Regions from separate parts of the Homo sapiens genome. Here region 2 is linked to region 1. The links come from fine-mapping of genetic effects on gene expression. A gene starts in region 1. The other region holds a variant in brackets. All regions are shown on one strand. Distances are from middle to middle. Region 1 holds the start of PDHB (pyruvate dehydrogenase E1 subunit beta). Region 2 overlaps RPP14 (ribonuclease P/MRP subunit p14).

Region 1 (5,373 bases):
TATTAATCTTCCAGATATCACCTTTTGTCAGAACTTGGAGTTATGAATGGCCCTCACTATACTGATGTTTTCTGAGCTCCTCTCTACTCTGAACATAAGGGACCCTAATAGTTAAGCAGGAATATCATCACCCCTATTCAGCCTGAAGAAGTTACAGAAGATGCATCTTCATCCCTCCGAAACTTTTAGGATTAAAGTTTCTCTCATAATAGGGAGGAGGCAAATGTCAGAGGAATGTGAACCAGAGCAACTCCATCTTGAATAGGAGCTGGGTAAAATGAGGCAGAGACCTACAGGGCTGCATTCCCAGACAGTTAGGCATTCTCAGTCACAGGATGAGATAGGAGGTCAGCACAAGATACAGGTCATAAAGACCTTGCTGATAAAACAGGTTGCAGGAAAGAAGCTGGCCAAAACCCACCAAAACCAAGACGGCGATGAGCATGACCTCTGGTCATCCTCACTGCTACACTCCCACCAGCGCCATGACAGTTTATAAATGCCACGGCAATGTCAAGAAGTTACCCTATATGGTCTAAAAAGGGGAGGCATGAATAATCCACCCCTTGTTTAGTATAAAATCAAGAAATAATCATAAAAATGGGCAATCAGCAGCCCTCAGGGCTGCTCTGTCTATAGAGTAGCCATTCTTTTATTGCTTTACTTTCTTAATAAACTTGCTTTTGCTTTGCACTGTGGACTTGCCCTGAATTCTTTCTTGTGTGAGATCCAAGAACTCTCTCTTGGGATCTCGATCGGGACTGCTTTCCTGTAACATCTCCTTTTGCTTGGCAAATCTGATCCTGAAATCTTTTGGTGCTAGGTTGTGGGAAAGGTGGGAAGGACTGATTCACTTTTTCATTCTGAGCACCACCCACAAACTTTTGGGGGCTGAAATCTCAAGTTCAGGAGTTTCTCAGGGATGCTGTGGCAGTCTAGGAAGTGCTGGCCATTCCTGAGGCCCTGGCAGGGACAGTTGGGACTAGACGATGGTGGCAGGTGAGGGAGACTCAGAAGGTGTTGATTCCATATCTTGAAGATCTTCTATCCATTTTACAGATGAAACAGTCCCAGAGAGTAAATGTCATCTCTATGCAGCTGTCCCCAAATTTCTACCTTTAGCCCTGACTAGGCCCTAGGCTCCAGGCAACCTGGGTATGTCCCAGTCATCTAAAGAATAAAGGCTGGCTGCAGTGGCTCATGCCTGTAATCCCAGCACTTTGGGAGGCTGAGGCGGGTGGATCACTTGAGGTCAAGAGTTCAACATCAGCCTGGTCAACATAGTGAAAACTCATCTCTACTAAAAATAAAAAAAATTAGCCGGGCATGGTGGCAGGTGCCTGTAATCCCAGCTACTCGGGAGGCTGAAGCAGGGGAATAGCTTGAACCTGGGAGGCAGAGGTTGCAGTGAGGCCCACTGCACTTCAGCCTGGGTGACAGAGTGAAACTCCATCTCAAAAAATAAACAAAAATACACTCTTACTTCCCCAGCTCCTGGCACTTACACTGCCCCAGGCTCCTCCCTTACCCCATCTATCCATCCAGCAATGACAAAAATCCAAAATTTTCCTCTGCTCTTCCCTAGCACTTACAGCATTCCTATTGATTCTAGCCCAAATAGATCTCAAAACTGTCCCCCTCCTCTCCATCTGGAAGTTGCCTCCTAGTCTGCCTCTGTTGCTGCCACAGACTTCCCAGCATCCGCCTGTTCTGCCTTTGCCTCCACCCCCTCCCATTCCCAGTCAGCAACCTACTGGAAGTTGCAAATTCCTAATTTGGCAGCCTGCAGCTGTGATCCATAGAAGGGAATGTTTGGAATGTCTTGGGGATGGGTGGAGACTGGGTGCTCAATTGTCCCATCTGACCCCCAAGGGCCAAATTAAGACTAATGAGCTTCCAGAGGTTGTCCCTATGGCCAAGTGTTTGGCACCTCCCCATAAGGGAGGAGACCACCCCTCATATTGTCTTATGCCCAATTTCTGCCTCCAAAGAAAGAAAAAGTAAAAACTAAAAGGCAGAAATGAAATCCACAAACAGACAGCCTGGTGCCACACCCTGGGCCTGGTAAAGATCGACCCCGACCTAATCGGTTATGTTAACTATAGATTACAGACATTGTATAGAAAAGCACTGTGAAAATCCCTATCCTGTTCCAGTCTAATTACCGGTGCTTGCAGCCCCTAGTCACATACCCCCTGCTTGCTCAATCAATCATGACCCTCTCACGCACACCTCCTTAGAGCTGTGAGCCCTTAAAAGGGACAGGAATTGCCCATTCAGGGAGCTCGGCTCTTGAGACAAGAGTCTTGCCCATGCCCCTGGCCGAATAAACCCCTTCCTTCTTTAACTCGGTGTCTGAGGAGTTTCGTCTGCGGCTTGTCCTGCTACATCCATAGGGCCGCCCTTCTCTAAAGTTGTTGTAACCTTCCCCCAAGCAGGAATCCACTTCTGCTTTAGGAAGCAGTGGGAAAAAGACCATGCTTTAGAGTCAAGACAGTCCTAAATTAAAATATCGGCTCATTTAATCAATTTCTGCTTCAGTTTAACCGTCTTCAAAATGGAGATAATAATAACACTAATTACCCAAGTGGGGTACTGTGAGAATGAGCTATACAGCACATATCTCAATGCTTGGCTCACAGTAGGTGCTTAATGCAATCAATGAAAGCTATGATGTGCATTATAAGGAATCAACAGACAGCACTGTCCAGGGAAGACTAGACTCACTCATGAAGTGTTAAGTTCCCCATCAGTAGAGCGTGTGCAAGCACTTCTTGGTGCCCAAAGGATTCCAGCACCCACAACAGGTTGGCCTAACTCTTAAGGTCTCTCCAGCTTCCAGAGATCATGCTCCTCAGGGTCTGACTTCTAGTCCCCACGCTTCAAGTAACACCGACCAGGCACGTGTGCCCAGCGTGCACCCCGCCTGTCGGTCACCGCCTACTGTCAATAAAGTTGATTTGAGGCGGCTCCAGGCAGAGGGGCACGGCCACCCACACGCCACCTCAGCCCGGCCCCGCGGCCCCTCACCCGGTGGGCGGGTGGGCGGGTCACGCAGCCGGCGCGCCTTGCCATTGGCCCGCGCCGGTGGAGGCGGGGCCTGCTCACGTCTGCCGGCCCCTCTGTTGTCGTTTGGCAGCGGATAGAGGACACGACCAAGATGGCGGCGGTGTCTGGCTTGGTGCGGAGACCCCTTCGGGAGGTAGGCAGCAGCGCGCGGCCTGTATTCCCACGCGACCCCTGCCCACCCTGCGTCCCGCCGTCATCTTCCTCTCTCCCTGCCAGGTCTCCGGGCTGCTGAAGAGGCGCTTTCACTGGACCGCGCCGGCTGCGCTGCAGGTAACAGGCGCGGGTGCTCGTCGGACGAGGGCGGGGAGGGTCCCCCCTTCTCTCGGGAAGGAGGCCGGAGTCGCGCCTGCGCTGTGGCCTTCCGGCGCCGTGGGCCTTGGGTTTGCGGAGCCAGCATCCTCCGTGGAGCTCCTGCTGCCTCTGTCGCCGCCTGGCAATTAGCACACCGGCGAGTCACCACCTCACAGCTGGCTGGGCAATGGGGGAAAACTAAGACTAGGCGTTTCCTCCCTCACTCCATGTTTTTTTCTTTAAATTGCAGCAAAATAGACCTAACTTAAAATGTACTTTTTAGAAGTGTATAATTCAGTGGCATTAAGTACATTCACCATGTTGTACAACCATTAACCACCATCCATTTCCAGAACTTTTTAATCATCCCAAGCAGAAACTGTCCATTACTCGGTAACTCCTCATTTCCCTTCCCCAAACCCCTGGTAACCCCTGTTGTACTTTTCTGTCTTTATGAGGTTGCCTATTCTAGAACTTCTTATAAGTGGCATCATTTGTCCTTTTGTGTCTGGCTTATCTCAGCGTAATGTCCTCAAGGTTCATCCATGTTGTAGCATGCGTCAGAGTTTGATTCTTTCCTAAGGCTGAATAATATATATATGTATATTTTTTTGAGATAGTCTCCCTCTGTCACCCAGGTTGGAGTGCAGTGGCGCGATCTCAGCTCACTGCAACCTCCACCTCCTGGGCTCAAGGGATTCTCGCGCCTCACACTCCTGAGTAGCTGTGATTAGATGCCGGTGCCACCACACCGGGCTAATTTTTGTATTTTTAGTACAGACAGGGTCTCACCATATTGCCCAGGCTGGTCTTGAACTCCTGGCCTCAAGTGATCTGCCTGCCTTGGCCTCCCAAAGTGCTAGGATTACAGGCATGAGCCACCTCGCTCAGCCCGACATTTTCTTTTTTTTTTTTGAGACGGAGTTTTGCTCTTGCTGCCCAGGCTAGAGTGCAGTGGCACTATCTCAGCTCACTGCAATCTCTGCCTCCTGGGTTCAAGCAATTCTGCCTCAGCCTCCCGAGTAGCTGGGATTACAGGCACCCGCCACCACACCCGGCCAATTTTTGTATTTTTAGTAGAGAATGGGTTTCACCATGTTGGCCAGGGTGGTCTCGAACTCCTGACCTCAAGTGATCCACCTGCCTTGGCCTCCCAGAGTGCTGGAATTACAGGTGTGAGCCACCGTGCCTGGCCTTGTTTTGTCTATTGTGAGTAATGCTGCTGTGAACATTGATGTGCAAGTATATGCTTGAATCCCTGCTTTCAATTATTTGGGGCATATACATAGAAGTGGAATTGATGGATTGTATGTTAATTCTCCTCTCCTTCCTTTTTTTAACTAGATTTTACCATTCATTATATTAAAAGAGCAACTCCTACATTCTGGATGCAAAGTATTTGGCAGTACTTGGCACCTAGTGAGCACTCAGTACATTAACACATGCAAAGACCAACTATGTGTAATAGAAATGTTACTTTTAGAATTCTTTGAGTTTTTAGAGAGAAGCTTGTTCTAGTGTTTTTATATTGTATGCTGTGGGCAGCCTAGGTAAATATAAAGGAAGAAAATCTTAGTTGAATCCCAAACAATTCTGTATTGACTGTTTTTGCATACCTGTGACAGGTGACAGTTCGTGATGCTATAAATCAGGGTATGGATGAGGAGCTGGAAAGAGATGAGAAGGTATTTCTGCTTGGAGAAGAAGTTGCCCAGTATGATGGGGCATACAAGGTAACTAAAATATATGAAAGTTATACAAAATTGAGGTCACTGTTACCCCCAGATACACTTAAGGGATCAACTCTTAATTGTAGGTTAGTCGAGGGCTGTGGAAGAAATATGGAGACAAGAGGATTATTGACACTCCCATATCAGAGGTAAGCCTTCCAGTGGGAAGCAGACCCTGGAGGGCATGTCTGTTAGTGTCCATTATCCTCATTTTTATGGATTTTCACTTATGTTTATATTTTACTTTATAGATGGGCTTTGCTGGAATTGCTGTAGGTGCAGC
Region 2 (5,373 bases), 120 kb after region 1:
ACCCGCTTGGCCTCTCAAAAGTGGTGGGATTACAGCTGTGAGCCACTGCACCTGGCCCTTTCATCCTCTTAAGAGTCTTTTGCAGAGTAAAAGTTTTAAATTTTGATGAGGTACTTAGCATATTTTGATTTGACAGACTATATGAATCACAAAATAATTTCCTGAGCATCCTGTCTTCTTTCAACTTCTGAAACTCTACTTCTCTACTTCTGTTCTCAAAGTTGCTTAAAATGCTGGTCTATGACAAAATAATGAGTTGAATCAGAATATAAACCAATAGTATCATTAATCACCATGTTTAGTTCAGTTCATCTTTTTTTCATGAGGAGCCTTTTTTTTGAGACCGAGTCTCGCTCTGTCGCCCAGGCTGGAGTGCAGTGGCGTGATCTCGGCTCACTGCAAGCTCCACCTCCCGGGTTCATGCCATTCTCCTGCCTCAGCCTCCCGAGTAGCTGGGACTACAGGTGCCCGCCGCTGCGCCCGGCTTTTTGTGTTTTTAGTAGAGACAGGGTTTCACCGTGTTAGCCAGGATGGTCTTGATCGGCTGACCTTGGGATCTGCCTGCCTTGGCCTCCCAAAGTGCTAGGATTACAGGCGTGAGCTACCGTGCCCAGCCCTTTTTTTTTTTTTTTTTTTTGAGACAGAGTCTTGCTCTGTTGCCCAGGCTGGAATGCAGTGGCGTGATCTCTGCTCACTGCAACCTCTGCCTCCCAGGTTCAAGCAATTCTCCTGCCTCAGTCTTCCAAGTAGCTGGGACTACAAGCGTGCGCCACCATGCCCAGCTAATTTTTGTATTTTCAGTAGAGAAAGCGTTTCACCACGTTGGCCAGGCTAGTCTCAAACTCCTGACTGTAAGTGATCTGCTCATCTCAGCCTCCCGAAGAGCTGGGATTATAGGAGTGAGCCACTGCGCCTGGCCCATAAGGAGACTTTCTCATTAAAAGTGGTTCTGCTGCAAATTCCTTATCTCTTCAAGATGGGAAAAGAGTTTGCAGGTGCCAGTCTAGGCCACACTTTGAGTAGCACTGTGCTACAACAATCATTTGTCTAACGTGTTCCTTGTCAAACAGAAGGCATATTAGAATAAACCCAACAAAATTCATCACTTCTGAAAGTTTACTTCTGCAATTTCAAACACAGTTTTAAAATAATCTCTAGGGGAATACAAAAATTAGCTGGGCGTGGTGGCAGGTACCTGTAGTCTCAGCTACTCGGGAGGCTGAGGCAGGAGAATCACTTGAATCCGGGAGGGGCGGGGGGGGGTGCGGAGGTTGTGCCACTGCACTCCAGCCTGGGTGACAGAGCGAGACTCTGTCTCAAAAAATAAATAAATAAAAATAAAATAAAATAATCTCTAGGGGAACCCTCACACACTACTGGGAGGAATGTAAATGTACAACCACTGTGGAGAGCAGTATGGAGGTTTCCCAAAAAACTAAAAATAGGTCAGGTGCAGTGGCTCATGTCTGTAATCCCAGTGCTTTGGGAGGCCAAGGCAGGAGGATTGCTTGAGTCCAGGAGCCTGGGCAACATAGTGAGACCTTGCCTCTACAAGTAAAAAAATTGGCGTGGTGGCACACGCCTGTGGTCCCAGCTACTCGGGATACTGAGGTGGGAGAATCACTTGAGCTTGGGAGGTTGAGGCTGTAGTGAGCCATGACCATGCCACTGCACTCCACCCTGGGCATCACGGCAAGACTTCATCTCAAAAACAAAAAACAAAAGAAACTAAACTAAAAATAGAATACCATTTAATCCAGCAAGTCTACTACTGAGCATAAATCCAAGAGAAAGGAAATCAATTCAAAAAGACATGTGCAGCTGGGCATAGTGGCTCATGCTGTCATCCCAGCACTTTGGGAAGCCAAGGTGGGGAAAAAAAAAAAAAAGGACATATGCACTCTCATATTTATTGTATTCCCAATAGGCAAAATGTAGAACTTAAGTGCCCATCAATGGATAAAAAAAAAAAAGTGGTATATATTACAATGGAATATTATTCAGCCATAAAAAAGAATGAAATTCTGTCATTTGCAGCATCATGAATAGAACTGGAGGCCATTTTGTTAAGTGAAGCCAGCCAGGCACAGAAAGACAACTGTTGCATGTTCTCACTCATATGTGAGAGCTAAAAAAGCAGATCTTGCCAGGCACAGTGGCTCGTGCCTGTAATCCAGCACTTTGGGAGCCCAAGGCGCGTGGATCACCTGAGGTCAGGAGTTCAAGACCAGCCTGGCCAACATGACGAAACCCTGTCTCTAGTAAAAATACAAAAATTAGTTGGGCATGGTAGCGTGTGCCTGTAATCTCAGCTACCAGGGGGGCTAAGGCAGGAAGATCCCTTGAATCTGGGAGGCAGAGGCTGCAGTGAGCCAAGAATGTGCCATTGCACTCCAGCCTGGGCAACAAAGCAAGACTCCATCTCAAAGAAAAACAACAACAACAACAACAACAACAACAAAAAGTAGATTTCATGAGGATAGAAAGTAGATTGGTGATTATCAGAGGCTGGGAAGGGTAGGAGGGTAGAGAGGATGAAGGAGGAAAAAAAGGAATACAAATGTGTTTATTACAATAAATGAATAAAAATTTAAAAATACAGAGTTGTATAATTTATTTTTTTTTTTTT[TTTG/G]ATGTTTGAAAAGCATTCTTTCTCGATTTTTTTTTTTGTGACAGAGTCTCGCTCTGTTGCCAGGCTGGAGTGCAGTGGCGTTATCTCGGCTCACTGCAACCTCTGCCTCCCGGGTTCAAGCAATTATCCTGCCTCAGCCTCCCGAGTAGCTGGGATTACAGGTGCCTGCCACCACACCCAGCTTATCTTTGCAGTTTTAGTACAGATGGGGTTTCACCATGTTGGCCAGGATGGTCTCGATCTCTTGACCTCATGATCTGCCCACCTCGGCCTCCAAAGTGCTGGGATTACAGGCGTGAGCTACCGCGCCCGGCCTCTTTCTGTATTTCTTACAAAGATCTTTGGAATGTTCAATCTACCAAGTGATTCCATACCTCCCCAAACAGGTCCTTCACAGCCGAAATAAGCAGCTGTTTGAACTGTGCAGCATTCAGTCCAACTCCACAATCTTGAAATTCTCTAAAAAAAGTGAAAAAAAAAAAAGTCATATTAAATTTCATTCTATTCAGATTCATGTTAGAAAAGTAATCTAAAATAGAACTTAGGAAACTAAACTTACAGGCAGACTTTCATGTAGTGGTACTCGGAAGGGTTTTTGTAAACTACTCTTTCATATGTGGCAGCAGGGGCAGGCATCTTTTCCAGTGCTGATCACACCTACAGTAAGTCAAGAGGGCTAGAAATGACCAATGCACATGCTATTTTTCAGAGTTTTGATGAGAATTTGGCCTATTTGGGTTTTTTTTGTTTGTTTGTTTTAAGGCAGGGTCTCACCCTGTCACCTAGGCTGAAGTGCAGTGGTACAATCAGAGTTCACTGCAGCCTCCACCTCTGGCTCTCGAGGCTCAGGTGATCCTCCTGCCTCAGACTCCTGAGTAGCTGGGAGTATAGGCACGTGCCACCACATCCAGCAGATTTTTGTATTTTTTGTAGAGACAGGGTTTCACCATGTTGCCCAGGCTGGTTTCAAACTCCTGGGCTCAAGCAATTTGCCCAACTCAGCCTCCCAAAGTGCTGGGATTACAAGTGTGAGCCACCAGGCCCGGCCTTCCTGTTATTATTATTTTTTTTTTGGAGAAGGAGTCTTGCTCTGTCGCCCAGGCTGGAGTGCAGTGGCACAATCTTGGCTCACTGCAACCTCTGCCTCGCGGATTCAAGCAATTCTCCTGCCTCAGCCTCCCGAGTAGCTGGGATTATAGGAATGTGCTACCACGCCCGGCTACCTTTTTTGTATTTTTAGTAGAGACAGGGTTTCACCATATTGGTCAGGCTGGTCTCGAACTCCTGACCTCGTGATACGCCTGCCTCGGCCTCCCAGAGTGCCGGTATTACAGGTGTGAGCCACTGTGCCTGGCCTCCTGTTTGGTTTTTAAGACTTCTGAGCACAGTAACTCATCTAATTCTGATCAAACTAAGGTTACCCATACGAATACAAAATAAGTTTCTATATTCTATAAATGTCAAATCACTGTACTCTTACTTAAAACATAACAACATAATTTTGGCTAACAATTTTCCTTATGAGCACCCAGCTCTTTGCTAAACATTTCACATGCCTTAGCTTGTCTTCAAAATGCTCCTGAGGTAAGAGGTATTATTATTCCCATTTTCGAGAAGATGACACAGAGGTTTAGTAAACGTAGGTAACATCTGCCCAAGGGTGCCCAGAGATTCCAACCACTCTGAGCCCACTCAAGACCAGTTACGATGCCTCTTTATCCAAAGAAAAAGAAAAGACATAAAGGAGTAAAATCTAAGATTTGAAGGTCCTCTTCTTGTTTACTCTCAGTCAACACAGAACACAAAGAGAAGAATGAGGGATGGTCGTTCTGCCGTCTCCTCCCATCCTGTGTCTGCCTGCTCTCAGTCCAAAAGCCAGGTCTGTGCAAGACTATCTGTGAACAACTGAGCTTAAACAGCACAGGGGTTGAGAAGAGGGATTCCTGGAAGGGGCACTCAATGCAGCTTCTAAAAGGTCTGAACTTTCAAGAACGTAGAACATGCTCATCTCTCTGTAGACAGTTCCTTTCCTTGGCTCCATGCCAACCTTGCTCTCCCTCTGGATAGGTCCTATTCATCCTTCAACTTTCAGTTTAAATACCACCTCTTCATGAAGGTCTTCTCTGACACCCTTCTCTAAGTTAAGCCCCCATGTTATGCAATCTCTTAACACTGTCTATTTGTTTAATATATGGATCCCCCACTACAGGGAACAGGAAACTGAGGCCCAATCAAGGAAAGGGACTTATCCAAGGTCACAGAGCTATGGACCAGCATTTCAAAACCACTCTGGGTTAGACCCAGTTCCAACCACTCCCAGATGATGACCTCTGGAGAAAAGAAGTCAGGGTCAAGGAGCTACATCTACCAATCCATTCAACAAACATTAATACTTTGGGGCCTGGCGTGGTGCTCATGCCTGTAATCTCAACAGTTTGGGAGGCCAGGAGTTTGAGACCAGCCTGGGAAACATAGTGAGACCCTGTCACTAAAAAAAAAAACAAAAAAACTTAAATTAACCAGGCATGGTAGTGTGTGCCTGTAGTCCCAGCTACTCCAGGGGCTGAGGTGGGAGGATAGCTTGAGTCTGGGAGGTTAAGGATACAGTGCACTGTGATTGTACCACTGCACTCCAGCCTGGGTGACAGAGCATGACCCTGTCTCCAAAACAAACAAACAAAAAATACTGTAATACTATGACACAAAGTAGGTATTCAAATGAGAGAAAAGTGATAGTGGTA

What was found. PIP is the estimated chance that this variant, and not a neighbour inherited with it, causes the effect. A credible set is the group of variants that fine-mapping cannot tell apart.
Region 2: its variant is the best candidate, but not a certain one, in a credible set for the expression of PDHB in whole blood (INTERVAL, PIP 0.58).

What each region holds. Positions count from the first base shown.
Region 1 is chr3:58,431,597-58,436,969 of GRCh38, reverse strand. PDHB (pyruvate dehydrogenase E1 subunit beta) reads left to right here and starts at 3,138. Exons shown (of 10, transcript NM_000925.4): 1 at 3,138-3,202; 2 at 3,286-3,339; 3 at 4,986-5,093; 4 at 5,177-5,239; 5 at 5,342-5,373. The coding sequence starts at 3,161. It overlaps LOC107986092 (a long non-coding RNA gene), which reads right to left and starts at 3,375. Exons shown (of 4, transcript XR_007095933.1): 1 at 2,728-3,375. RefSeq lists enhancers at 1,511-2,120, 3,163-3,382 and a silencer at 2,863-3,102.
Region 2 is chr3:58,308,225-58,313,597 of GRCh38, reverse strand. RPP14 (ribonuclease P/MRP subunit p14) reads right to left here. Exons shown (of 6, transcript NM_007042.6): 2 at 3,192-3,289; 3 at 3,007-3,091. The coding sequence starts at 3,268. HTD2 (hydroxyacyl-thioester dehydratase type 2) reads right to left here. Exons shown (of 5, transcript NM_001348712.2): 2 at 3,007-3,091. Among named protein-coding and RNA genes, the nearest start is that of HTD2, 4.4 kb to the right of the region's middle. RefSeq lists an enhancer at 773-1,274. The variant TTTG/G (reference allele first, on the strand shown) is at 2,630.